Linked DNA regions of Homo sapiens. The protein of the gene in region 1 interacts with the protein of each later gene in a pairwise test. Each region holds a gene or a part of one and is shown in the gene's direction. Other genes may lie near its edges. The genes, in order: HHLA2, SLC38A7, TNMD and ERMP1.

Region 1 (7,025 bases):
TGTTTTTTCTCATGTTTCTAAGATGGGTGATTGGAGCTTTTATGCCTATAGAATTGATTCAGGAGAGAGAGAGAGATCCTGATGATGTAGTAGAAAGGAAATATGATTGCAGGGACAAATTTCTTTTTTTTTTTTAATTATACTTTAAATTCTGGGTTACATGTGCAGAACATGCAGTTTTGTTACATAGGTATACAGGTGCCCTGGTGGTTTGCTGCACCCATCAACCCGTCACCTACATTAGGTATTTATCCTAATGTTATCCCTCCCCTAGCCCCCCACCCCCTGACAGGCCCCGGTGTGTGATGTTCCCCTCCCTGTGTCCATGTTCCACTCCCACTTATGAGTGAGAACATGCAGCGTTTGGTTTTCTGATCTTGTGATAGTTTCCTGAGAATGATGGTTTCCAGCTTCATCCATGTCCCTGCAAAGGACATGAACTCATCCTTTTTTATGGCCGCATAGTATTCCATGGTGTATATGTGCCACATTTTCTTTATACAGTCTATCATTGATGGACATTTGGGTTGGTTCCAAGTCAAAATTAAAAGAACTAGAGAAGCAACAGCAAACAAATTCAAAAGCTAGCAGAAGACATGAAATAACTAAGATCAGAGAAGAACTGAAGGAGGTAGAGGAACAAAAAACCCTTCAAAAAATCAATGAATCCAAGAGCTGTTTTTTTTAAAAAAAAAAATCAACAAAATAGATAGACCACTAGCCAGACTAATAAAGAAGAAAAGAGAGAAGAATCAAATAGACACAATAAAAAATGATAAAGAGGGTATCAGCACTGATCCCACAGAAATACAAACTACCATCAGATAATACTATAAACACCTCTACGCAAATAAACTAGAAAATCTAGAAGAAATGGATAAATTCCTGGACACATACACCCTCCCAAGTCTAAGCCAGGAAGAAGTCAAATCCCTGAATAGACCAATAACAAGTTCTGAAATTGAGGCAGTAATTAATAGCCTACCAACCAAAAAAAGTCCAGGACCAGATGGATTCACAGCCAAATTCTACCAGAGGTACAAAGAGGAGCTGGTACCATTCCTTCTGAAATGATTCCAAACAATAGAAAAAGAGGGAATCCTCCCTAACTCATTTTATGGGACAAATTTCTTGAATACAGAAAGGTGTGAGATGCAGAGTACAGTGAAGGGTTTGGCCTTGGATAAGAGCAGAAGGAGAGACAAAAAGAGTGCACCTAGATGTTAATGGGTTGGTTGAGTCAGTGATAGGAGGATGAGGGAGTAGCCATAATCAGTTACAACAATTATGAAGTAAGAGCATCAGCTGGAAAAGAGATGAGAACAGGGAATGTCAGTTTCAAGAGAAGGTAGCAAATATTGGAGTCATTCTAGGCAATGGGAAGATGAACCTCTAGCAAGACAATGGACATGGAATGTTTCAGGGTTACGTTAAACAAGGTGAATTTGAGTTAATTTTTGCTTGGAAAGAGACAGTAATTAAATTTCAAGGTTTTTTTTAATGGCATATAGAGGCAAAAGGTATTATTACATGTTTACATATTTTCATAGTAGAAAAATGAGTTTAATGATTACTTGTAATCTTACTCTTCCAAAATAATCATTGTGATATCCTTTTATATATTATACATGCAAATACTTCCATAGGAAGAAATATAAAGGTCTCAATTTTGATAACTAATACTATTTTGGAGCAGTTTTGACTTTACCAACTATCTTAGTTATTGCTCTAAGAGAAATAAAAGCAATTGGACTCATAACTTTGTCATATTGCAAAAGTATTTCTATATTTTGTTGCTTTTTCCATTTTTATAGAGATAATAGAAAATGTACAGTTTTGTTAAAAGGCCTTCTTCCTAAGGTCGTGTTTTCAATAACTTTCTTATAGTCTTTAAAATGTAAAAATGAAACTCTAAATTATTAATCTACCAGGTTTTATTTTGATAAGATGTGATGAAGGAATCTAATTTTACTTTTTTAAAAAAATTGTTATTTTAACAGGAGTTACATGTGCAGGCTTGTTACATGGGTATATTGCATGATTAATTTCACTTCTTAAAATAGTTTCAAGTCATTCTTAAATCACATACCTCACAACAAATATAGAATATATTCTTGTAATAGTAGAGCTCCTAAATGGTATCTTTTTTATTTATTTTATTTTATTGTTACTTTTTTGAGACAGAGTCTCACTGTCTTGCCCAGGCTGGAGTGCAGTGGTACAATCTCGCCTCACTGCAACCTCCACCTCCCTGGTTCAAGCAATTTGCCTGTCTCAGCCTCTTGAGTAGCTGGGACTACAGGCACATGCCACCACACCCGGCTAATTTTTGTATTTTTAGTAGAGACAAGGTTTCACCATGTTGGCTAGGCTGGTCTTGAACTCCTGACCTCAAGTGATCCTCTTGCCTTGGCCTCCCAAAGTGCTGGTATTACAGGTGTGAACCACCATGCCCAGCCACCAAATGATACCTTTAAAACTTTCTTTTAGAGATTTTAAAACCAATTGTATGCTATTCTTTAAACAAGCTATTTCTTACAGTGTAAAAATTAACTTTAATCCTATCATCTGGGAAAATCAGTTACATTGTACTTGCTTGAAACTGTATTTTTGTGTATACACGTTTTGCCATCTATATTTTCTCACTTTTTTGAGTTTTTGAAACATGCTTTGTAACCCATGAATTTAATGGCTTGCACTAGTATTGGATATGTAAAAATATATTTTCAGGTTTTAGTTGTTCTTTATGTGTGATTATAAATAACATCATAGTTTACACCACTGGCACTTAATATTGAATTTAAATTGGTTTTAGTATTTTCTATCATAAAAGCAAATGTGTCCATGTAGAAAGCTTTAAAAATAACAAATTATTATCCAGAGAACCACTGTTGCAGATATACTAAATCTTTATTCATTCAAGAGCCATGTTTCAGCACCTGTTAATAGCAGTCACTGCTTCAGATATGAAACCTGCTCTTCAGAATTAACATCCTCATATACTTAGTCATATATCTTGTCAGTATCCTATGATCAGAAATGTGTATGTTTTAAAAAAGGAACCATGCTATTTAGAAATTGTATTGTAATCTAATTTTTCTCCGATAACCTATTAAGAAATTCCTTCCATGCCATTGAACCATCCTTTACAATATTATATTTAATGGCCACAAAACAATTATTTGTATGAATGTACCACTCTTTTCCAATTCCCTTTTGCATTTTAAATCCATAACATGTGCACTTTACTTCTCTTTGATAGCATGACTAATATGTTCTGCACAAGACATGAAGGCACAGACAGCACTGTCTTTCTTCCTCATTCTCATAACATCTCTGAGTGGATCTCAAGGTAATTTCGTTTGTAATACAAGTGTTAGTTATTTGCATTATCAGATAGAAACATGAGCACACAATGCAAGGTGGCTATTTCCTCCATAGCCACAGCATCGTGAACTTTCCTAAATCATCAGTTAATCAGAAGCAAGGAACAGGCTGGAAGTCTGCATGAAGACTAAAAATTATATATATTTTTTCTGTCCACTCTGATTAAGACTCTTTCTAATCTGTTGTCTGCTACCAGAAGTAAGTTCACTGGAAAGGCAAGTTTGATTGATTGATTTTTTTTTTTTTAAGTGTAAGCTTGGTACTTACCACTTGACAGAAGGCATTATCAGCTTTGCTAGGTCCTATGACAGGCATTCTTAATTATCCAGTGAAACATTAGAGGGGTTTAGCAGAGCAATTAGAGAGATCGACAGTCACTCTTTTCCTTTCCCATCTTTCTGTGTCTTTCTTTCAGCATGATGCCACATCCCTCTAGCTCTCTGCAGAGAGATTAAGTCTCTCTGAGGAAGAGAGGCGGGACATGGTAGGGTAGAAAGAGCCCCAGAAGGGAAGGTAGAGGATAAAGACTGTGACAGAGCCACTTGGGCACGCAGTTCTTCCATCTTGGGTGGCCTGGGCCATGAGCCAAAGGAGTTACTCCATTGTCCAAAAAATAAGGTCCTTTCCAGTGCTAATATCTTAGAATCCATAGACAGGGCACAAGATCTACTTAAAATATTTTGTAAATCAAAGCAGTTAGATTACCTCCTTCAATGATAGGAAGTGTCTGGGTATATTTTCTTTGCAAAAATCTCTTATTCTGTTGATTTCATTTGCTTTTTGAAATTAACTTGTGAAGTTGACAGTGAAAAGAAAACAAAACAAAATAAGTAAATCAAGAGAATTGGGGATTAGGCTTCCAGATTTATCTCCAGATATTCCTTACCTACATTTTGACCAACTCAGGATATCCTGAGAGCAGTCTTAAACTCAAAGCAAATGAATGACTCTCTTTCCCTTTTGGACTCCTCCTGCTCATGTCCTTCCCTATTTAGATCTAGTGTACAGATATCAGATTCCTGAACCCAGCATTGTCTTCTATGTGCTCCAAATATTTTCTTACCCAGTCAAGCTGAGTTTATTCCATTCTTTTAGGGCCTGCTGGCTGTTGCTAGCTGGATAAACTAATTTATTGTTGCTATAGTAGGAGTTAAATGTGAATGTGTTCTGGGAATGAAATCCAATGGAGTCTTTTAACATACATGATTTCCAGGCCAGGATTGGAAGAGAGATAAGATTATTGATCAAGTGGGCAGCAAACCAGTGTTTCTATGCCTTGGGCTGTTACCAGTTCTCCCAGTTACATTGCATAAAACAGATATTCAATTAAAATTAAAACTCAAACACAGAGCTTCACAGGTTTGTTTCTAATAATCAGACAAGTGTTTTTGATTATGTGGTCTACTAATAATCAGGCTGCTAACCTAGGATAGTTCTTCTGGGTAGTTCTGGTATAATCCTGAACAAGCACATGGCATTAATTCTCTTTATAACTTCTCTGCTCTTGACTGTAGGCATATTCCCTTTGGCTTTCTTCATTTATGTTCCTATGAATGAACAAATCGTCATTGGAAGACTTGATGAAGATATAATTCTCCCTTCTTCATTTGAGAGGGGATCCGAAGTCGTAATACACTGGAAGTATCAAGATAGCTATAAGGTTCACAGTTACTACAAAGGCAGTGACCATTTGGAAAGCCAAGATCCCAGATATGCAAACAGGACATCCCTTTTCTATAATGAGATTCAAAATGGGAATGCGTCGCTATTTTTCAGAAGAGTAAGCCTTCTGGACGAAGGAATTTACACCTGCTATGTAGGAACAGCAATTCAAGTGATTACAAACAAAGTGGTGCTAAAGGTGGGAGGTAAGTGTGCATGTAAAGTTTCATGAAACAGCAATGACATCATTCCATGTTATTAGTAAGCGTCTTTTTCCTAATATGCCATGAGCTTCCTTCCAAGTCAATACATGGAAATCTACTTATTTTTAACGCACAGCAACTTGTAGTATACTAATGTTATAAATGATACAACTGTTCCCCTGTTGGTGGGTATTCAGGCATTTCCAGTGTTTTACATTACATGGTTGTGATGAACATCCTTATAATTGTACTTAATACTGGGAAATAATCTGAAAGCAAAGTACCAGAAGATTTAAATGGGTTACTGATACTAGCAGCATAAGACTATCCACTTTCCCCTTAGTCTTATCAGTACCAAATAACTGCCAATATCATGACTGAAAAAATATTGAATTGCTGATTTAAATTGCATTTTTCTATATTATAAATGAGGTTAATTTTATATTATATGCTTTCCTTCTCTGTATTAGCTATATATAACACTATACCTATATAACTATAAGCCATTAATATAGTTAATACATACAGTTATATACAGTTAATATCACTCAGACAGAGCTTCATGGTGGTTATATTATACAGTTAATATAACTATATAATATATTAACTGTATTAATATATTAACTGTTGCTAATTCTCATAGTTACATTGAACCAAACAGGTATTAGATTAAAACTGAAGAAATTCAAAGAGCTTCATGGCTCCTAATTACCGGATTACCAAGAGTTCCTGATGATGTGCTCTGTTAATGATCAGGCTGCTGATCATTTATATGCAATATAGTTAGTATGCATTATAATATATAGAACAATCTTACATATAGATATATATACACACACACACATACATGCAGTATTTTCTAATGGGTTGTTTTTCCCAGCACTTGTTTCTTTTTCTTCTGTCCCTTTTAGCTGCTTCAGACCTTGATTCAGAAATCACAAAATTATGTGTAAACAGTCAAATAGGTGCTCTGAGTCAGTATTTGAGGAGTGTAGAGTGCCGCATGAACTCTACTTTATAGACTTAGACATCCTCATTTTGGTTTTTCAATGAGGCCATTAGATTTCTTTTCCAGCTATGTTTCTAGAAAATTGAGATTGCTAGTTGCCACATACCCATGCCTGCTCTTTTTTTATTTCTTCTAGATAACCACACTATATCTTAAGGTTCTACAGAGGTGTGTGTTTGTTGGTTTGTTTTCCCTTTCAGTAACTGCCAAGTTTTGCTCATAAAATTTAGCTTTTCATTTCATGGATATTAAAAAGTATTCTGCACAGACGGCCTATAAAGAAGCTAATGATGGCAGTTTTTCATGCGCCCTTCTTTCTCCTATGTAGTTTTTCTCACACCCGTGATGAAGTATGAAAAGAGGAACACAAACAGCTTCTTAATATGCAGCGTGTTAAGTGTTTATCCTCGTCCAATTATCACGTGGAAAATGGACAACACACCTATCTCTGAAAACAACATGGAAGAAACAGGGTCTTTGGATTCTTTTTCTATTAACAGCCCACTGAATATTACAGGATCAAATTCATCTTATGAATGTACAATTGAAAATTCACTGCTGAAGCAAACATGGACAGGGCGCTGGACGATGAAAGGTAGGCTCCACAGGACTTTCTGTGTACACGTGCTGTTTCAAAGTTGGGGGGTAATGGGGACTGATTTGCAAAAAAAGAAAGGAAGATGAAAGAAAAGAAAGCAAATCCATCTGCAGCGGTTAGAAGACCAAGACCGAAGCCCTAGGGCTGGTTCTTCTGGCTGTATTAC
Region 2 (7,025 bases), on another chromosome or scaffold:
AATAACAGCAGCAGTGACCATTTATTGAGTCTTAAACCCTTACTGATATTAACACACGACCCACAGGAACATATGATGTAAAGGCCTAAAGGGGCGAAGTGACTTGCCCAGGGTCACACAGATAGGCAGCGGAGGAGTCAGCATTCTGACGGCAGAACCTACTCGGAGACCCAGATCACAGCCCTGCCCAGGGCTGCTCTTGATCTGGGGGTGGACTTGATGCTTTAGGACCATCATTTCTCTGCGGGTCTCAGGCTATGAGCTGAACCTTGAGAACACTGAAGATCCTTTTTCAGGGCTGGGCTCCTCAGAGCCTCTCGAGATTCTTGGAAGAAAAAAAACTGCATCTCAATTGTGTTTATCCAGAGAGCAAAGAGAATCAGTCAGGTGATAAGCCTGTTATCTGAGTTCTGCCATACCCAAGGTACCATCTTGGACCCAGGAGTGGGGCAGATACAAACAGATGGATGCCCTATGGTCAGACAGGCCTGGGTTTGAATCCCAGCTCCACCACTGACCGCCATATGACTGAGGGGAGAGTGGTTATCCCCTCTGGGATTCAGCTTCCTCTTTGGTAAAATGGTGACTGTCATGTCTACCTTTTAGGGCTGCATTGAGGATTGAATGAGAAAGCATTCCATAGCTGCAGCAATAGTGGTTTATAGTGACAAACAGCACTGCATGTTTGGCACTGATCATTGTAATCTAGCCCAGGAAAGCAAGCCTAGTGGCCAGTGAGATGCTAGCACATGAGAGAGTACTGAGAAGAAACCAGCTAGAGTGGTTCTGGGCCCCTACATGGCTCCAAGAAGAGCTCAGTGAGTGACCCAGGAAATGGGGAAGAAATAGGACCTAAAAGGGTGGCGGCAAAGGAGTTGGGAGCATTAGAAGCATGGGATGAATCACTGTTTTCCTGAAGACGCAAACATGACAGGCATGGGGGCTTGTCACATGAGAGAAGAGTCGAGAATTGGCCTGAATTTCGAAGGGCCTCGAAAGCCACAGAATTCAGACTCCAGGCCACCGGGAGGCGTGCTGGACTGTAATATGTTGAATCTCAGTTCTTGGTAAGGGGTCCTTTTGGGACCCTGTGGGGTGGAAACAGGCTGGGAAGCCAGACAGATCTGGATCCAAATCCTGCTATGCAACTTGCTAATATATGACCCTGGGTCAGTGATGGGATCTCTCCGAACCTTTTGACCACAAGACCATCCTAAGGATTGAATGAGATAAAGTATATCCATGACACACCTGCCCGATGCGGGGCCTCTATCGAGTGCTGATGTGTTAGTACCCATTTTATGTTGACATCTAACTGGTCCATTGAGTCTGTATGCCTGAAGCAAGCATGATTTGCACCTGATCTGTTTCTGTGTCTGTCTCCCCATACTCTGGCACCCAGTGCACTGTCTGCACAGAGGCATACCTGGGTTTGGACCCTACCCATGTGATCTTGGGAAAGTTATTACACCTTTTTGTCCCCTAGTTCCCCCATCTTAGGATAACAGTAGTGCCTGCCTTTGTCCCATCTAGGTTGAGAAGAGTCCTAAGCTAACAGCCCCAAACAGGTGGGTGTTGCTCAGCTCCCTGAGGCATGTGGTTGTAAGGCAGAACCCACAGACCTTGCAGGAAGAAGGCTCTCGGGGCCATGGCCCAGGTCAGCATCAACAATGACTACAGCGAGTGGGACTTGAGCACGGATGCCGGGGAGCGGGCTCGGCTGCTGCAGAGTCCCTGTGTGGACACAGCCCCCAAGAGTGAGTGGGAAGCCTCTCCTGGGGGTCTGGACAGAGGCACCACTTCCACACTTGGGGCCATCTTCATCGTCGTCAACGCGTGCCTGGGTGCAGGGTTACTCAACTTCCCAGCAGCCTTCAGCACTGCGGGGGGCGTGGCAGCAGGCATCGCACTGCAGATGGTGAGTGCACTGGCCGGGAGGGCAGAGGTGCAGTTCAGTTGGGCGCTTTGCCTCAAAAGGGAGGCTTCGGGTCAGGGATGGCCAGTAAGTGATACACGCACTGCTCTCCCCTCCCTCACACATGGCAGACATGACTAATCTATTCTAGTATTCTTTCCTGTGACCCAAATGAGGCTTCAGAAGCCTTCCAACAATCAGAGAAATTTGAACATCAATTACATCTCTAATTTTTTAGGTGTAACATTGATTTTGTGGTATGTTTAAAAAGAGGGCCCTTATCTTTTAGAACTACATACTGAAATATTTATTGATGAAATGATATGATAGCTTATATTGGCTTCACAATAAATGCAGAGTGGGAGGGAAGGGGAATGATGAAACAAGTTGGCCATGCATTGATCATTTTTGAAGCTGAGTGATGGATACATGCCAGTTCTTTTTACTATTCTCTTTACTTTTTTCTTTGAGATGGAGTCTTGCTTTGTCACCCAGGCTGGAGTGCAGTGGCCCGATCTCGGCTTACTGCAGCCTCTGCCTCCCAGTTTCAAGTGATTCTCCTGCCTCAGCCTCCCAAGTCGCTGGCATTACAGGCACCCACCACCATGCCCAGCTAATTTTTGTATTTTTAGTAGAGACGGGGTTTTACCATGTTGGCCAGGCTGGTCTCAAACTCCTGACTTCAAGTGATCCTCCTGCCTCAGCCTCCCAAAGTGCTGGGATTACAGGCATGAGCCATCGCATCCAGCCTATTCTCTTTACTTTTGTATGTTGGCAATTTTTCAAAAAACTTTTTGTTTTTAAAGAAAATCTCAACTCGGCATCCTCTAGCAGTCTCTTAAAATTGCCTTTGTGAGATTTGCCAAGCTTGCTTTGGGCACTGGCCCAGTAAATGCTAGGCGAGCCCAGGGTGCCCTCTGCTGCCAGGCCTTTGCCACAAGCTCTTGTTCTGCCTCTGCCTGCAGGGTATGCTGGTTTTCATCATCAGTGGCCTTGTCATCCTGGCCTACTGCTCCCAGGCCAGCAATGAGAGGACCTACCAGGAGGTGGTATGGGCTGTGTGTGGCAAGCTGACAGGTGTGCTATGTGAGGTGGCCATCGCTGTCTACACCTTTGGCACCTGCATTGCCTTCCTAATCATCATTGGCGACCAGCAGGACAAGAGTGAGCTTCTCCCTCAGTCCCTACCCCATCTCTTCTTATCAGCCCCAGGGATCCTGGGGTGGAGGGAAAAGGCACTGAACACCTCTCCAGGACTTACCTGGGCCCAGCATTCATCTGGGAATCCTCCCTCCAGGCAGAGGGAGGTCCTGGGGCCCAGCAGAGCAGGAGGGCCACACCCCATGGTGGCCTGGCTTGACATTCCCTCCTTCCTCCCTGTGCAGTTATAGCTGTGATGGCGAAAGAGCCGGAGGGGGCCAGCGGCCCTTGGTACACAGACCGCAAGTTCACCATCAGCCTCACTGCCTTCCTCTTCATCCTGCCCCTCTCCATCCCCAGGGAGATTGGTTTCCAGAAATATGCCAGGTTTGGAGGCCCCAGCCTGGGTCAGACAGAAGCTATGATCCTGGGCAGCTGTAGACCCAAGGGCTCCTGGGGAACCCTGCTCCTCCATGCCACCTCACCTTGGGGAGCAAGAGTAGGCAAGGCAGGGCAGACCGGGGCTTGCAGGGTTTCAGATAAGACCATCCTTTTCTGTCTCCATCATAGAAAAAGGATGCATCCATGAGAGATTCAGTTCTAAATGTCCTTTTGCATCCATGAGTAGTTCAGTTCTAAGTGCCCTTGTCAAAGAAGGAACAGGTGGTATCTGGGCGGTGAAGGCAGCCTCCTGGCATTCCCTGGGAGGAATTTGGGTCTTTGAGACTGTCAGCCTACCAGCATCTTACCTGCAGCTTGGCATGAAGGAAGGAGACTGGTTTCCTGTCTCGGTGTCTGAAAGGCTGTGGGATTCTAGGCTTCCCCGTCTGTAAGTGCAGGGGCCATGCTCCGCTCTCTCCAAGGCTCCCATAAATGTTGACACAAAAGTGTCTGTACTCTCAACCCTCTTACCTCTGGCATCTCTTAGTTCTCAAAGGCCAGGCTCAGAGGATGGTCTCCCACAGCCCCTGCCCGGGCTGGGCTGCTCTGATTCAAGTCCCAGGTGTGCTTTGGAGCTCTGCTCTCTGCATCGTCTCTGAGCCATGGAGCTGAACCAGCACTTCCTGATGGCCAGGAATGCTGATCAGGTCCCCTGTTGGCTGTCCAGCTCCTTCCTAGCTGTGGCAGGTTTCTCTGAAACTACTTCTCAGGCGTTTCCTGAGTCTGCTTGGCATAGTCTCCGGTTCATTCAGTGGACACTTGTGGTCGCTAGAGCTGAAGGTGGATGTCCCTAGGGGTGGAATCAGATAAGAGGCAGCTGGGGATGAGGACACTTAGTCTCTCCTTCCCGGCAGCTTCCTGAGCGTCGTGGGTACCTGGTACGTCACAGCCATCGTTATCATCAAGTACATCTGGCCAGATAAAGAGATGACCCCAGGGAACATCCTGACCAGGTGAGGGTGAGGGCCCTAGGAGACATGGGGAAGAAGCCACCACTTGGGCCCCAGCAGGTGCTGGGTCAGGAACCAGAAGGCCACACAGGTGCTCTTCTCAAGGCTCATGAGCTCATCAGGGCTGACTTGGTCATTGTAGGAAGGAGGAAAGAGCCCCTGCTCTGATGTTACTGGAAGGAAGAGCAAGAATCAGAGACAGGAGGCACTTTGCCACCTACATCCAACAGATGAGCCAGTGTGAGGCTAGGCCTTGGGTTGTGGAGGAACCTGAGGGTGGAATCCCAGGGTCGAATTGCCTGTGTTTCCAGCATCTGCTTATCTGTAATTTCTGTATCTTTGAGGGTGAATTTATTATTAAAAAAAAAGGGGGGGGGCCAGGCACAATGGCTCACGCCTGTAATCCCAGCACATTGGGAGGCCGAGGCGGGCGGATCATGAGGTCAGGAGATTGAGACCATCCTGGCTAACACGGTGAAACCCCGTCTCTACTTAAAAAATACAAAAAAATTAGCCGGGTGTGGTGGCAGGCGCCTGTAGTAGCAGCTACTCGGGAGGCTGAGGCAGGAGAATGGCGTGAACCTGGGAGGCAGAAGTTGCAGTGAGCCGAGATCGCGCCACTGCACTCCAGCCTGGGTGACAGAGCAAGACTCCATCTCAAAAAAATACAAAACAAAACAAAACAAAAAAAACAATTTCCTTCTTTTGAAAGGAACAAACCAGTAAAGCAAAAGCCCCAGTCCAGGAGCCAGGAATTCTGGATTTTGGCCCCAGGGGGGCTTTTCTGAACCTCCAGGCCCCATCCCAGAGGGCCCTGGGACATAAGGATGCCTCTTCTCCCTGTTCCCAGACTTCTGTGGGTTGAAGCTATGGAATCCCAGTTGCTGGAGACCATGGTGGGCTGACCGAAGAGTGAGGGCGTGGGGTGGGTTGTGGCTCTGAGGGGTTCCCAGGTGGCAGCACCATGTGTGTTTGTTCACAGGCCGGCTTCCTGGATGGCTGTGTTCAATGCCATGCCCACCATCTGCTTCGGATTTCAGGTGCCAGTGCCAGTTGCAAGGTCCCTGCTGTCCCCTTAGATCACCCCACCCTGGGATGGAACCCAGCAAGGAGGAGGAACCCAGGCAGAATGGAGGAAATCCTGGGGGGAAGGATGGAACAGGGGCCTCAGGACTTGCCCCTTGTTCCTGGGGTCTTTGTTCCCAAGGTACCTTCCTCTGGAAACTGGGGTTGAGGTCATTTCCCCACCATGACGGTGCCCTTCACCTGGACAGTGCCACGTCAGCAGTGTGCCCGTCTTCAACAGCATGCAGCAGCCTGAAGTGAAGACCTGGGGTGGAGTGGTGACAGCTGCCATGGTCATAGCCCTCGCTGTCTACATGGGGACAGGTGAGTGCTCCCCCCCCCCAAGACCTGGGACTAGAGTGCTCTCACTTCCACAGGAGTCCCTAGGTCCTGGGGCCTAGCTTTCCTGGGGACAGCCCTGCATTCCCAGCATGACTTGTATAGGCATTGGCTTGAACTTGGCCTGCCTGGAGCCTCCTCCTGCCAAGATGAGAGTGGTGTATTCATCCATTCATTCACCAGTTCTAACTTGGTGCCTAGGAAGTGCCAGGAACGGTTCTCAGCATGGGGGATGCCATGGAGAGAGACAGAACTGGTCTTGCCCTCATGGAGTTGACATTCTTGTTGGAGAGACAGTCATGCAGGAGTAACTGGGGAATCAGTAAGGAATTCCAGATGGTGGCAAGCATCCTGATGACAGTGAAATAGGGAAGGTGTGTTTTGTTTTATTCTATTTTATTTTGTTTTGAGAAAGGGTCTCAGAAACTGTCGCCCAGGCTGGAGTGCAGTGGCATGATGATAGCTCACTGCAACCTCAACCTGCTGAGGTCGAGTGATCCTCCTGCCTCAGCCTCCAGAGTAGCTGGGACTACAGCCATGTGCCATTGTGCCCAGCTAATTTTTTTTTTTTTTTTTTTCTAGCAGAGACAAGGTCTCACTATGTTGCCTAGCCTGGTCTTGAATTCCTGGGCTCAAGCAATTCTCCTGCCTCGGCCTCCCAAAGTGCTGGGGTTACAGGCATGAGCCACCAACCCAGCCTAAAATGGGGAAGGTATGAATGGGACTGGATGGGTGGCTTTGGGAGTGGTTCACAGAAGGTTCTTCTCAGAGAAGGCCCAAATGATGAGAAAGAGCCAGAAGAGGAGGAGCTGGGGAAGAAGGGTTCCAGGCAGAGGAACCACAAAACACCAAATCACTGAGGCAGGGCCAGGAAGAAAGTCTATGTGGCTGGAGTGGTGTGTGATGGGGGCAGGTGAAGGCAGTGAGGCCAGACAGGCACTGGCAGCCAGATCCTGTTGGGCCTCGAGGGCTGCTGGGAGTCATCGAGGAAGTGTTTTAAGCAGGGGGGTGGTTCGGGGAAAGGTGGCTCTGGCTGCCGTGTGGAGAGTGGTTGGGGTGAGGGAGCAAGTCTAGGAGACCCTGGAAGAAGGATCCCCTGAGTTCTTTCCACGGATAGACCGTAGGAGCTGCCTGGGCCAATACTGTTCTAGCCTCTGAATACACAGCCAGGAACA
Region 3 (7,914 bases), on another chromosome or scaffold:
CAGGCAAAATAAGCACTTTAAATGGATTACCTCATTAAGTTATCACAACAACCTATAGGTACTGTTTGTATCCTCCTGTTTTTCAGATAAGAAAATTGAGGCACAATAATGGCTATTCTTGGTTGGTGCAGATTTGAAGGGATTTTTTCTCTTTTTTGTATTTTTATATTTCTCCATTATTTTTATAATGAGTGTGTATCTTTTTTATAAAATGAAAGCCATTGTGAAAGCATGTCTCAAAATAAATAACTGTGAAGATTCCCTGGGGCTCAGTCTTGAGCTCTTTTCTCCTTTTGTCCTGAACTCTCTTCCTAGACCATATCATAGACTCCCATAGGTTTGAATGCCATCCAAAGGCAAATGGCCCCCATATCTATATTTCCATTCAAGCACCTGTTTTCCAAGCTCCAGACACATTTGCCCAGCTGCCAACTAGACAACTCCTGTTGGATACTTCATAGACTGTTCAAGTTTAACATGTCCAAAACTATGCTCATCACTTACCCCAGACTGGTCCTCCTCAGTGCTTCCTAATCCCAGTGAATGGTGCCACTGTCCACCCAAAGGCACAAACCAGAATCTATGTTATTTTTTGTTCTTCCCTTTCTCTCATTCTCTATATATTCAATCTATCACCAAGTATATGCTTTACCTAAAATATGTCCCAGATCTGTTTACTTATTTCCATCTCTGCTACCACTTCCTAGTCCAAGCCACTATAATCTCTTTCAGTTACCTCCTAACTGGTCAACCTTTTAAAACTCTTGCCCCCTTACAATTCATTCTTCTCACAGCAGCCAGAGAGATTTTAATAAACATAAAAGGAATTCTACTTAGAACTTTTCAATTAATTCCCATTGTTTGTAGAATAACTTCAGTTGAGTACACGGGCACATGCCTGTAATGCCAGCAACTTGATAGGCTGAAGTAGGAGGATCACTTGAGTCTGGGCCAAGTCCAGCCTGGGCAAAATAGCAAGACCCTATTTCTAATTTTAAATAAATAAACTTCAAACATTTACCATGACCTTTGTGGCAGAAATTATAAGTTGCCTACTCAATATGTTTCCCCCTTCTATATATACATAAAAAGATATTATTAAGAGTGGTAACAGGCTCAGTTGAAAATAAAACCTCCCCAGACCCCACTATAAGTAGGAGTGGTCATCCAACCCAGTTCTGGCCAATAAGATAAGCAAAAATCTACAGGACAGGGCTTCCAGGAACACTATTACTTTCTTAATGGAAAGGGACAAATTTAGCTGCCACATGTTCTTTTGCCCTTTGCTATCCCCCCTTTATCCTGCCTAGAGGTGGAGCAGCCATCTTGGAAGCATGATGATGGAGGCCATGCTCAAAAGATCACAGAACAGAAAGATGGAAGCTTGGGTCCTTGTACTTGAACTAGCCCTGGACTGCTGACTTTGTGACTCCCATTATGTGAGAAAAATAAACCCTTCATTTGGTTAAACTGCCATAACTTGGTTTCTATTACATACAGCAAAAAACAGTCCTAGCAGATGCAACTCTGAATATGTCTCCTGCCTACCTCTTCAGCCTTATCTCAAGTAACTCTCCTCCTCATTCACTACATCACAGCTACACTGACTTTCCTTTTATTCTCTAAATAATTCAACCCCTTTTTTGCTTCAGGATATTTCCATGTGCTGTTCCTTTGGCCTGGAATAATCTTTTCCCCACTCATTACCAGCTAACTTCTACTCATTATTCAGGTCTTAGCTTAAGTGACAACTCCTCAGCATGGATTTCCCTCACCCATCCCACCCAATCCAAATTAGGTGCTTTAAAGCACCTGCACTTTTCCTTCTTAGCATATATCATCATTTATGTACTTTTATTTACAGGATTTTTTTCCTTTTAGTTTAATGTCTGTCTACCCAACAAGACTCTGAGCTCTATAAAGGAGGAACTGTGTTTGCTTGTCTACTACTGAATATATATCTAGCTCCTATAACAATGCCTGCCACATAGGGGACACTGAATAAATACATGCTAATCAATGAACAGTCTATTGAAATGCCATGTCCTTTGTGCCATTTTTCCTGCTTTTCTGAATCAGAATTAATCACTCTTCCCTCTATGTTTCCATGGAATATTGCTTTGACTCTTGGTTTAATTCAATCCTTTTAACAAGAAAGGCATGTTTTAAAAGATCTCAAAGTCTATTCAGGAGAGGAACACATAAAAAAGAATTATAATACAGCATACAAAGTATAACGGTTGAAGTATGAGCAAGATACAAAAGTAGAGCAAGGGAAAGGGTAATTAACTTAACGAAGTGGAAGAGATGAGACCAGGAAAGGCTTTCAGGGGGTGATAACATCTAGGCAGCATTTTGAAAGCCAAATGGGAATTTTCCAGGTAAACAAGGGAAGGCAGAAAACTCCAGGCAATGAATATAGCATGGGCAAATGTCCTACAGTGTGAAGAAGTAGGGCATGTTCATTAATAGGGTGTACAGTGTGAGGCAGGCATCAGAGGCATAGTGTGAATAACATCACTGAGGGGAACCATCTGACCCAATAAACATAAGTTTCTCCATGAGACTGCTCTTGTGGCTTTTCTTTTTTCTCTCTTTAAGCTTGACCAAAGAATTGTAGAACATATAGAATCGTGACATATTTCATAATTTATGTAATCAGTTTAATGCACAATCATGTATCCAACAATTAGAAAATTATTTTCCTTGAGACATTAGGATGTGGAGGTAGTCATATGTACATGCCCCATTTTCCTGCCCAGCTGCGACCTCCCAGTTGGCTCCATCGCTGTAGAAAAAAATTGTCCAAAATCAAGACTAGAGAGTTGGACAAAGTCGAGATCATTAAATGCCTACTATGTCACAATAAGTGGCTTGGATTTTATAGACAATGAATAGATACTAAAGGATTTTAAGCAAGGGAGAGATTATCCTCAAATTTGAGTCTTAGAAAGATCACCTTGAAGACAATGTATGAGAGACAAGGAAAACAGAATTCTATTGCAATAGTAAAAGTGACTGAGAACCTCAACTTAAACAGTGGTGATTGACAATGGAGAGAATAGGATTGCAGAGCTAATTCAGAGGCAGAATTAACTGGACTTAATAATTGATTAGCCATGGGGATGAACAAGACAGGAAGAAATCAAGGATCATCTGGAAGTTTCTATTCTAGAGACTGATTATTGTGTCATTTAGTGAGAGAGGTAATACCAAAAAAAAAGTGCATGTTTGAAAGGAGAGATAACTAATTCAGTTCGGGATATATGGAATTTGAGGTGTCTGTTGGGTATTGTAGATGTCTAGCAGGTTAGATGGACATATGGATGTGGAGCTCCAAGAGAACAGCCTGGGTAAAATATATGGATGTGAAAGTTCTCAAAAAGGATGACAAACTAAACTGGGGTGTTAGCAGTGAGCACAATAGGAAAGAACAGCTTTCAAAGATATAAAAATTTAGAATAGATAGGATCTAGTGATTGATTGGAATAGATAGGATCTAGTGATTGATTGGATAAAGGGAATGTGAAAAAGAGACAAAACCTCAGATTTTTGGTTTGAAAGACAAACCTCACATTTTTGGTTTGAAAGACAAACCTCAGATTTTGGTTTGAAAGACTGGGTGCGTGACAATTCCACTATTATAAGCTAAGTTATGTTCCCTCAAAATTCATATGTTGATGCCCTAGCCCCCAGTATTTCTATATTTGACTGTATTTGGTGATAGGGTTTTTAAAGAGGTAATTAAGGTTAAGTGAAGTCATATGAATGGGACCTTATCCAATATAACTGATGTTCTTATAATGAAAGGAGATTAGGATACAGGCATACATAGAGGGAGAATGTCATGTGAATATGGAGATGGTCATCTACAAGCCAAGGAGAGAGGACTCAGAAGAAGCCAACCCTGATAACACCTTGATCTTGGACTTCTAGCCTCCAGAGCAGTAAGAATATAAATTTCTGCCATTTAAGCTACTCAGTCTGTGGTATTTTGTTATGGCAGCCCTAGCAAACTAATATAGCCACCAACTAAGGTTGGGAATATGAGGGGAAAAAGTAGGTTAGGAGAAGGTGTTGAAAGAAGACTTTGATATAGAACATGTTGAGTTTGAGATTCCTGAGGTATATCCAGGTGGAGATGTTCAAATGGCCTTGAAATTAAAAGATATAACTGGGTTACAGGTACAGATGTGGAAATCACTGATATGTAGGTGATATTTTCAACTGTAGGAATGAATGATATCATCTACGAAGTCTGTGTAAAGTGAGAATGATCATCAAGAAGAGAACCATAAGGCATGTGAACATTAAAAAGCAGACTGAGGAAGAGGACCCAAGAAAGGAGAAAAATCAGAGACAGAAGATGAAGAGAGAGAGCTTAGAATTAGTCTTTATTTTATCCTGTTTTCATTATAATTAGTTAAGTACATATTGATAGCACCATTTAAAGAGCTTTAACTTAGTGAAGGAGGCAATATCTTATTCATTTCTGAATCTCAAACACCAAGCACAGTGCCTGACATTTAATATCCCTGCAATAAATATTTGTTGAACCAAATGGAATCGAAATTAGGACTTCATTCCCTTCTTTGTTTTGTTTGCTTATTTCTGGAGTGTGCAGCATGTATTGCCACTGATATTTTAAGTTCATAGTGAAAAATCATTTCAATGTGTTCTAGGCTTGGTCCCCTTCCAACCCAACCCCCAGGACAATAGTTTTCATTATAACCTTCTGTCTTTGCCATTCTGGATGGAATTCTGTGCACAGAAGTTATATACATATATGGGTATATCTATGTAACAAATCGCAGCACAGGAGTCCCCTGGGCTCCCTCAGGCTCTGGTATGACATATTTGAGCCATATAAATTCAGCTTCTCCTCTGGCATCTGTTAGCCGACTCACTTGCAACTCCACCTCAGCAGTGGTCTCTCAGTCCTCTCAAAGCAAGGAAAGAGTACTGTGTGCTGAGAGACCATGGCAAAGAATCCTCCAGAGAATTGTGAAGACTGTCACATTCTAAATGTAAGTTGATTCATATTTTTTCCCTTTTGAGCAGAAGCATGGTTTCACAGATTTATCATATTGCAAAGTGAACATTAGAAAGTGGAATCAAAGGTGACTTTGAATTATGGCTTGCTTATTGAGATTTATTGTGTATTGTTTTATTCTCTCTGTTCTTTGGTTAGGCAGAAGCTTTTAAATCCAAGAAAATATGTAAATCACTTAAGATTTGTGGACTGGTGTTTGGTATCCTGGCCCTAACTCTAATTGTCCTGTTTTGGGGGAGCAAGCACTTCTGGCCGGAGGTACCCAAAAAAGTAAGTAAATACACATCATAATCTGATGCTTCTGTTCTGAGTTTGATTGAATTTAATTAGTAGGCATATAAATTATTCTGAAAATGAAAATCATTAAGTCTCTTTTGTGTTTATTTTCTGGTGGTATGAAAAACTGAATCAAGATTTTTCTCTCCTTCATTTGCCTAATTATTTTGGTAAGGGAAAAAAATTTATCTTCTATATTTTGGTTAGTAATGATAGGGTGTAGAATTACCCATTCTTCTATAATGCTTATATTTAAGGAGTTAAGACTCCTCCTAGGAGCAAAGTTTTTACCTTAAGAAAAAATACTTTTAATCTTTCTTTCAATTATCTGGGCAGAAACTGATGGAAAAGTAATTAGACCACCACATAAGGAGAAACCACCCAAAGTGGCAGCAAAGGATTTTCAGGGATTATGTTTCTGACTTAATGCATCTGCAGTGAGAACAGGCAGCAAGCTGCTTTTCAGGAGGAGCAATTCTCATACCTGACTTCACATTTATTTATGACTTTAAAAAGAAACTAGAGCTTTTCAGCTCCTTGCCAGCTGCAATCATCACTGTCCCACTGAGATAGCAATGCCACAAGGTAGAAGCATGCGACACCAAGTCATTAATCACAGATAACTCAGAAAGCTTCTGATACTGGGGTCATTTGGTGAAGCTTGGCTAGCCACTGTAGTTTATATTTCTGTACCTTAGTGTTATTGTTATTCCTGGGCTCATAGGCAATGGGCAAGTTTAGATATAAAATAAATAAATAAAACCATAGTCCCAAATAAAACCATAGTCCCTTCATGCTCACAATTTCCATTTGAAAGATAATCAACAAATATACAAACTACAAGTTGTGAAGATAGTTTTCTGGCTTTGCCATGTTTTTCTGTTGGTGTGTGGATTGCTGCTGAAGTTATTGTTATTACTGTTGTTAATTGGTTGTCATAAGATGCTCATTTCTATTTGGTAACAGATGTAGGGAGAAAAAAGCACAAATCCAGGAAGGAGGATGATACAAGAAAATGGGTTGGCATGGACCGTTAGGAGCCAAAGGAGCAATAGGAGCAGAGAGAAAAAAATATGGGTCAGTGGGGAGAGAGAGGCAGAGCAGGAAAAGCAGAAAATAAGCTGGCTAAGTGTCTGAAAGATAACAGAGGTATAAAGCATAACCACCCTTGGGTTCTCCACCTCTGCTGTCATACCCACTTTCATTTAGTCCCAAAGGATATCTTATCAGGTTTAAGTAGGAGGGAGAGCAAGCCAGCCTACTTTGTTTGCCTTTTTATTTATACTTTGTTCCAGAAAAGATTTCAGGCATCACCCAATGCCTATAGTTAGCCCTATCCCCTACTCCTCCTCCCCTTACTGCTCCTTGCTTCTGAACTACTTACCGTTCAAATGTCCTTCTAGAGAAGCCACCTGTGTTCAGGCTGGCAGGGTGGGTAAAGCAATCGAGATCAGGAAGGAAACAGCAAATTAATAAGAGAGCCAAAATGCATTCCAATACAATTCTGGTACCACTTAGCTAATTCCCAAGGTGATATGTCACCCCACAAGTTGAACCTTGGATCCTCTTGAAAATTATCCATGAGTTAAAGGGCCATAAATCCTTTGTTCTCCACAGCCATAATGTACTTAACTGGGCATGGTGGATAGCTAGTCCTTTTGACCACCCTTAGATGCTTGCCTAAATAAGGGGCCAAATGGCCTTTCTTGTTTTATTGTTGTCATTGGTACTGCAAATGCTATTCCAAAAGAGTATATGTGTTTTTATAAATTTACAGTGCTATTTGCCTCAACGCAGCTATAAACGACTAGGTGGAGACCTTGCCTTTTTATTGCAAAGTGTCAAACTCACTTGCAGCTTCATGGTCTCCTCTCTTTCCCTATTATATCATCTTTACATCTCATTCTAGTTCTGTTTTTAATGATTATAAGGAGCAATCCTATGATACCTCAAACCAAAATAAAACTTGGTCAGTGCATGCACAGAAGAGGTGGGATATGCTGCTGAATAAAGTTTATCAAAAATCAAACCTCTTGTGAAGTAATCCATTTTGGGATGTCATTTTCAGCAAAGGGACTCTCAGAAATGAACAAAGCTATTATGAAGTAATCCAGATAAAGACAACAGGTGTCCCCTAGGGCAAGTTTCTCTACCATGAACAAATATTGTTGGTTTTCCATTCCAGTGGGGAGTTATGATTCATTGTCTTTGATATTTAAGTCATGGCCTTCATAAGACCAGGTTTGGTTCATTGAAAACTAAGAAATCAGCTGGAAATGAGGATGCTTTACTTAGTCCACTACTACCTTCAGGTCCCAGACAAAGATCTCAAGAGACCATCTATGTTTCCAATGGGTACGCCTATCAACAAGCCTGCCTTAGAGCAGACTTAAGAATTCTGGGAAGAGACTAGCAGTCAGATTAGTCTTGGAAGAGTTGCATAGGAAAGGGACACAGGCATCTTACATAAATTAAAGACTCTCCCCTTAATGGTATGGCCTAGCAAGAAACAACAGCAGATTAAAATCCAGGCTCTTTGGGCTTTCCTTAACAAATCTATGAGACTTGTTGGGACTCTGTGGCCC
Region 4 (7,025 bases), on another chromosome or scaffold:
GATTGCCTTGCCTGCCTAGGCATTTTTTTTAACCTCTCTTCTCAAATACAACTCCCTCCCATCTAAGAGGAACTATTATCCTAAGTTTTAAGATAATTAATGATAGTTTGGCTTTACCTGTTTTTCAGTATGGTTTTCATTGTATTTTTTAGCATAAATTTCTTAATATCAAATAGTAATATTTTAATAATAGTATTTTAATATGATAAGATCTCGTAATGTACGTATTTCCCCATCATCATAGTTCTTTTTCCTTTTGTATTTGTGTCCTCAGTGCATCACATCAGGATGCATGTGGTATCTGTTTGTCTCATTATTAATGATACTACATTTTCATCGTTTGATTAAGGTATTTATTTGCCAGGTTTTTCTACTATTTCTTTCTTTGTACAAGTTACTGATTTCCCCTTAGTGATAGATACTTTAGGTAAATATCCTGTTTGTCATAAAACTTTGATCCTAGTTTTAGCAATCATTGATGACTCTTGTCCCCAAGCATTTTTATTACAATGTTTACCAAATGCTACTGCTGAGTTTCTGGTTCCATCATTCTGCCTGTAGGTCATAGTTGGAATTCTGCAAGAAGGAAGGCTTTCCATTTTCCTTTTTTTTTTTTTTTTTTTGTTATTTCAGTACTTTATGTATTTTAATTTTACTCTATATATTCTGTTACTATTGTTTATTTTGTTGCATGAATTGTCCCAGTTTAGGCCAGTGGTGTCTATTTCAAATCAGTGCCTGAGCCCCTTTGACATGTCTTTTTGATCACTTTCTTACTTTCTGGCACAGATGTTTCAACTTACCTTGTACTTTGCTAGTCCCAGACCTGGAATCAGCCATTTCTCTAAGGAGGCTTGGTTTCTTTTGGTGGGGAATAGTATTCAAAAGTAAATGGTGCCAGATACAGTTTTTCTTTATATTTATCTTGTTTGGGGTTTGTAGACCTTTTTGAATTCGTGGCTTGAATTCTATGAGTTTTGGAAGATTCTTGGCCATTAAGTCTTTAAACATTTATCTTCTCCATTCTATCTTCTGTTCTTTTGGGACTCCAATTACTCACATTTGTGTATTTTCCAACCTTTTTTTCTTTTTATGCTTTAATTTTAATCCTTTCTTCTGCTGTATTAAACTTTGTGTTAAGCCCATTTATTAAAATTCGCAACATCAGTTATGTTTTTTCATTCTAGGATTTCCATTTGTAGGACTCTTTTAAATAGATTATACTTGTCTGGTGAAATTACTGATATCTGTGTTTTTTAAAACATATTAATCATAATTATTTTAGAATCTGTGTCTGGTAACTCCAGTATCTGGATTACTTGTATGTCTGTTTCTATAGGGTCCCTCTGCTTTTTTGGGTCATTTTTAATTTTTAATTTTTATTTTTTCAGATGGAGTCTCACTCTGTCACCCAGGCTGGAGTGCAGTGGCACAATCTTGGCTCAGTGCAGCCTTCACCTCACAGGTCTAAGCAATTCTCCTGCCTCAGCCTCCTGAGCAGCTGGGATTACCATGCCCTGCTTATTTTTGTATTTTTAGTAGAGGTGGGGTTTTGCCATGTTGGCCAGGCTGGTCTTAAATGCCTGACCTCAGGTGCTCTGCCCACCTCGGCCTCCTAAAGTGCTGGGATTATATGCGTGAGCCACTGCACCCAGCCTTGGTCATTTTTTAAAATGTAGGAAAGCAATTTTATAATCTGTGAAGTTAAAAAAACAATATTCTTAGATTCCCTGACATTCAGTTACTTGGTCTGTTTACATCAGTCAATATGTTGCTAAGTTTTGTGGTAACAACCCCAAAATCTTGGTGGTTTACAACAGCAAAGGCTTATTTCTTGCTCGTGTTGCATTTTGGTTTCTGAATAACTGCAGTTATGGTCCACGGTTATTATGTTCCATGTGTCTTATTCATTCTGGGATCCAGGCTGAAGGAGAAGCCCCTATAAGGGATGTATTGATCTCACAAATCAAAGTTAAGGATAAGTATGAATGATGTTAATGCCTTTGAAAACTCTGCCCAGTTGAGGGTCATGTCATTCCTCCTCACAGTCTGTTGGCTAGAGCAAGTCATGTAGCCACGCCTGCAGTTAATAGGTACAGAAGAGTATGTACTCATTCCCCAGGCAGGCATTACAAGGTATGTGGCAAGAGTAGGAATGTATAATCCTTTTTCAGCGAGGGAAGAGTGAATAATTATACAATTATACATATAATTATATAATTATAATTATATAAATATACGTATAATTATATAATTATATAAATTATAAAACAATGTATCCCACTATCCTACAGGAAAAACTCCCATTTGAAAAAGCTGTAGATGTATGAGATACAGATGGAAAATTATTAATAATGATAAATTATAAAAAGTAACAAGGAACTTTATGGCATATTCAGTGAAATGTTAAGCAGTTATCAAAATGATTATTATAATACAGATTGAGCATCCCTAATCTGAAAATTTGAAATCCATAATGCTCCACAATTCACAACTTTTTGAGCACTGACATGATGCTCAAAAATGTTCATTGGAGCATTTCTGATTTTGGATTTTAGGATTAGGGATGCTTACTAGTATAATGCAGATATTCCAAAATCCGAAAAAGTAAAAAATCCAAAATACTTCTGATCCCAAGCATTTCAGATAAGGTATACCCAATTTGTATCTAGCAACATAGGAAAATGCATTTAATATAATGTTAAGTGAAAACAAATGTACAAAGTATATATATCTTGAGTACAGCTATATACACACAATTCTACATTAGTAAGAAAATTAAAGATATACAATTGATAATAGGCATTTTAGGATGATAGATTTATGAATGATCTTTCATTTTCAGACAGACTTTTGTATTGCTGTTATTTTATACTTTATTTTCACAAAAGGTTTTTATTCTAAAAGTCAAACACATATATCAGAGAAACATTGGAAACTACAGAAAAAGGGATGAAAAGGTACATATTGGACCCGTCTCCCAAAACCACCACTTTTACTGTTTTCTATGTGTTGAAAAACATTAGTATGTTAAAAAAAATTGCCGGAATACCTTCTATTGTGTTGTCATCTTTCATTTTAGGTCCTGAAAATCCTTGGTTGGTTCAAGCTTATGTTTCAGCAGCTAAACACCCTTTTGCTTCTGTGGTGGCTCAGGAGGTTTTTCAGAGTGGAATCATTCCTTCAGATACTGACTTTCGTATCTACAGGGATTTTGGGAACATTCCAGGTATATTGTCAATGGTTACGGCCTACTGTGCAGCATTTATTTATCAAAAGCAAATTTTAAATCTTGAAAGTATGTGAGTAAACAGCATTTTCTGAGATCAAATTCTTTATGTGAGAAATATACATTGACTCACTAAAACAGAGTTTGTTTCCTTTTTTAAACTCCATACTAATTTAAATGCTGGCCTCCTCTAAAATATGTCATCTTTCCCCATAGAAGAACAGGGGTGAACTGTTTAGCACCTCATTCCCAAAAGATGGTAATAGATCCTTCAGGGGTCTTTCGTTGTTGTCTTGGTTTGCCAACTCCCTTGGCAACTTGTATGTACAACTTATTTGAAGTTAAAATTTGGCTCTGGCCTGGCAAGAATGTAGGTGGCAAAATTTTCATGACCTCCCAAACTCAATATTCCTATCCTTGCTGTGTGACTTGTAATGCCTACCTGTGGAGTAATATACTTCTTCAATCATTATGTATCGAATTATGTACCAAAGCTATAGACTGTGTAAGAATTTGGAAGAGAATTTATATCAGTCGTTTGTAAATGTGACAAAGCAATCGTGCCACTGCTTTGACATTTTGTCTTTTAGGAATTTATTAAAGAAATAGGTCGAAAGCAAGGTTGATCTTTAAAGCAAAATGACTTTTTTTTTTCTATATATATGTTTTAGGAATAGACTTAGCTTTTATTGAGAATGGATACATTTATCACACCAAGTATGACACAGCGGACAGAATTCTAACAGATTCCATTCAGAGAGCAGGTTGGTATTCCAATTTAGACTTTTGATATACACTAAGATGGAATGTTAGGGATGATACATAAACTTGTAAATATTCTGTGGCCTGTGCATTAGAGAGGCAGTATGCAATGTGAATGAGCTAGGGCTTTGGAGTTGGAGAGATGAGATCTTGAATTTTAGTCTTGTAGTCTAGTGTAGCAATTAAGGTCAGGAATATTCATTGTGAGGAAATGAAAAAGGAGTTGGCCCAGGGTTGGGAGGATTGCTGAGTGGTAAGAATGTAGCTCTGTTAGTCTCCCATGATGTTTTCCTGTGGAACTCTGCTAGCTCTCCTCAATTTTTAACACATGTGTGACAGCTTGTTCAGCATCTCTGAGCTTCGTGAAAGGCCTTTGTCTCTTGGTTCACCACTAAATTTCTGATATCTAGAAGAGTGTCTAGTACAGTTAATATATATTATTAAATGAATGGGTACCAAGAAACAGCCATTGGATTTGTCAACAATGAAGGTACAATTGATCACAGAGAATAGTTCTAATAGAAGGGAAAAGATACAGGCCAGTTGGCTGAGCGTCTGAGTGGAGAGGAAATGGAGAAAGGCAGGGGATGGACCTTATTTGAGAAATTTAGTAAAAAAAGTGAGGGAGAGCAGTAGGATGGTAGAAAGCGATTTCTGTTCACATTCTTTCTAACCATTTCTTCATTCAAACAGTATATGGTTTATTTCTGCTTTAAATAGTGGTATGTGTAAATCACAAATAGTTTATTCAGCCTTTTTATCTTTTTCCTTTTCTTTCTTTTTTTTTTTGTTTTTACTAATAGGTGACAACATTTTAGCAGTTCTTAAGCATCTAGCTACATCTGATATGCTGGCTGCTGCTTCTAAGTATCGACATGGAAACATGGTCTTCTTTGATGTGCTGGGCCTGTTTGTCATTGCCTACCCCTCTCGTATTGGCTCAATCATAAACTACATGGTGGTAATGGGTGTTGTTTTGTACCTGGGCAAAAAATTTTTGCAGCCCAAACATAAGAGTAAGTATTTTCCTCTAAAACTACAAATACTGGCATTGCTGTAGAATGTGCTTGAAGTTTTTCAGTCAGTTTGTTTATATCTTCCCAGAAAGCTAAAAATCTTAAGACAATGTTTGCTTTATATTGTAAGAAATTTTTAAATATTAAATTAATATGCTTATTTTACTTTTAGTCTTGGTGAAGCAGTCAATTTTTATATATTTAGGCACTCCATAAAAGTACCACATAGAAACTATTGAAAAATGGTTTGTACAGATTGACTTCTAATGAAAAGTCCCATTAAAAAGTCCACACTACAGACCAATAGCTAGTATGGACCAGTGTCACGAAGTATGAATGAACTGCTTGTGGTTAAACTGTTTCTTTTATTTGAAATATTTCTGCTTGAAATGTTTCAGAGTCTAAGTTGTTGTGTGCTGTTACGAGATAAAATATTTAGCAGCAGTTTAAATAATTCTTTATCAACGCTTATTTTCCCCACACTCCTTATCTTCTTATGTTACCTTATTTTAACAACATTTTATATGGAACTTTGCCTTCCATTCTTGCTAATATTTTGATACACAAAGCATACCAAAAGTGAAGAAGATTAAGACTATCCTCTTCCTTCATAAGGAATGTACCTGAACTATTCCTAGAAGATTTATCTTTTTGAGTGTTTAGTATCTAGAGACTCTTAATAAATGTTACCTGAATATTATTATTTGATACCTCCCTTGTTCTTGTGTTTGGCCAATCTCAACACTAGGACATTTTCATACTTTTCAAGTACAGTGGGGAGTTTTTTGTTTTAATGTTTGCCCATTTAGCTCTACTGACTGGTTATATAACTGATTTGATGAAGATGGTGATTTCAACTTTTTGTTTTCTCTTCATTAGCTGGTAACTACAAGAAGGACTTCTTGTGTGGACTTGGCATCACTTTGATCAGCTGGTTCACTAGCCTTGTTACCGTTCTCATTATAGCAGTGTTCATCTCTCTTATTGGACAGTCTCTCTCATGGTATAACCACTTCTATGTCTCCGTTTGTCTGTATGGAACTGCAACTGTAGCCAAAATAATACTTATACATACTCTTGCGAAAAGATTTTATTACATGGTAAGTGTTTGGTATATTTGTTGATTTCTTTCTGTTGCCTCCAGGGACTGAAGATGAACTTAAGTGTGATTCATTGTATTTGGCCTTTTGAGTGCTAAAAAATTGTTCAGCATGGTTATGGAAAACGCACCTACACTGTGTTAATTTTCTGAAAGATTTCTTATTCTGAGGGTAATGTCACAAAATTCAAATGAGGTTATAAAGCCGGGCTGTTAACAGTGTTAGGGTGGTGGTGACTGGAAGGCTTGTTAGCACAGCCTTCTACTGAATTTGCTGCAGTGTTTGTAAATATGTCCTGGGCTCACCCACTTATTTATGTTATTTGAATATCTGTTCTCCATTGGAGTGTAAGCTCCTTGAGGATAGGGATTGTTTTATTTATTTCTGTATCCTCTGTGCTTAGGTAGTGTCTGACACACAGCATTAACACACAGCAAGTATTTGTTGCCTAAAAGAATGTTGTACTTAAAGTTTTTTCAGTTTTTCCCTCACTGTTTTTTCTTTTTAACTGTATATTGTTGATTCAGATTCTGCATGCATGTATGTCATTGGAGTTAAAAGACACATTGCTAAGGAAAACAGAGGGAAGGGAAATAGGGTTCCAAATGATTTATACTGAGAATATTGTTATATTATTATGGTTTCAAATGCATAAATTTGTTTGGCAAAAATAAAATTAGAAATTAGGGCTGGCCGGGCGCGGTGGCTCACGCCTGTAATCCCAGCACTTTGGGAGGCTGAGGTGGGCGGATCACAAGGTCAGGAGATCGAGACCATCCTGGCTAACACGGTGAAACCCCGTCTCTACTAAAAATACAAAAAATTAGCCGGGCGAGGTGGCGGCGCCTGTAGTCCCAGCTGCTCGGGAGGCTGAGGCAGGAGAATGGCGTGAACCCGGGAGGCGGAGCCTGCAGTGAG

Evidence for each region.
Region 2: the proteins of HHLA2 (region 1) and SLC38A7 interact in binary tests that used the Homo sapiens proteins (3 or more experiments, as listed by UniProt).
Region 3: the proteins of HHLA2 (region 1) and TNMD interact in binary tests that used the Homo sapiens proteins (3 or more experiments, as listed by UniProt).
Region 4: the proteins of HHLA2 (region 1) and ERMP1 interact in binary tests that used the Homo sapiens proteins (3 or more experiments, as listed by UniProt).

What each region holds. Positions count from the first base shown.
Region 1 is NC_000003.12:108,348,526-108,355,550, forward strand, and holds part of HHLA2 (HERV-H LTR-associating protein 2 isoform a precursor), read left to right. Parts: intron 1-3,262; coding exon of another isoform or gene 3,263-3,288; coding exon 3,289-3,352; intron 3,353-4,901; coding exon 4,902-5,255; intron 5,256-6,589; coding exon 6,590-6,856; intron 6,857-7,025. UniProt on the Homo sapiens protein: Through interaction with TMIGD2, costimulates T-cells in the context of TCR-mediated activation. Enhances T-cell proliferation and cytokine production via an AKT-dependent signaling cascade.
Region 2 is NC_000016.10:58,674,750-58,681,774, reverse strand, and holds part of SLC38A7 (sodium-coupled neutral amino acid transporter 7), read left to right. Parts: intron 1-1,533; 5' UTR 1,534-1,648; coding exon 1,649-1,918; intron 1,919-2,880; coding exon 2,881-3,079; intron 3,080-3,300; coding exon 3,301-3,442; intron 3,443-4,350; coding exon 4,351-4,449; intron 4,450-5,428; coding exon 5,429-5,486; intron 5,487-5,653; coding exon of another isoform or gene 5,654-5,699; exon of another isoform or gene 5,700-5,720; coding exon 5,721-5,835; intron 5,836-6,051; coding exon of another isoform or gene 6,052-6,161; exon of another isoform or gene 6,162-6,241; intron 6,242-6,432; coding exon of another isoform or gene 6,433-6,461; exon of another isoform or gene 6,462-6,525; intron 6,526-7,025. UniProt on the Homo sapiens protein: Symporter that selectively cotransports sodium ions and amino acids, such as L-glutamine and L-asparagine from the lysosome into the cytoplasm and may participates in mTORC1 activation. The transport activity requires an acidic lysosomal lumen.
Region 3 is NC_000023.11:100,580,040-100,587,953, forward strand, and holds the start of TNMD (tenomodulin), read left to right. Parts: upstream 1-4,896; 5' UTR 4,897-4,979; coding exon 4,980-5,027; intron 5,028-5,191; coding exon 5,192-5,323; intron 5,324-7,914. UniProt on the Homo sapiens protein: May be an angiogenesis inhibitor.
Region 4 is NC_000009.12:5,809,093-5,816,117, reverse strand, and holds part of ERMP1 (endoplasmic reticulum metallopeptidase 1), read left to right. Parts: intron 1-3,082; coding exon 3,083-3,229; intron 3,230-3,900; coding exon 3,901-3,993; intron 3,994-4,794; coding exon 4,795-5,007; intron 5,008-5,886; coding exon 5,887-6,107; intron 6,108-7,025. UniProt on the Homo sapiens protein: Within the ovary, required for the organization of somatic cells and oocytes into discrete follicular structures.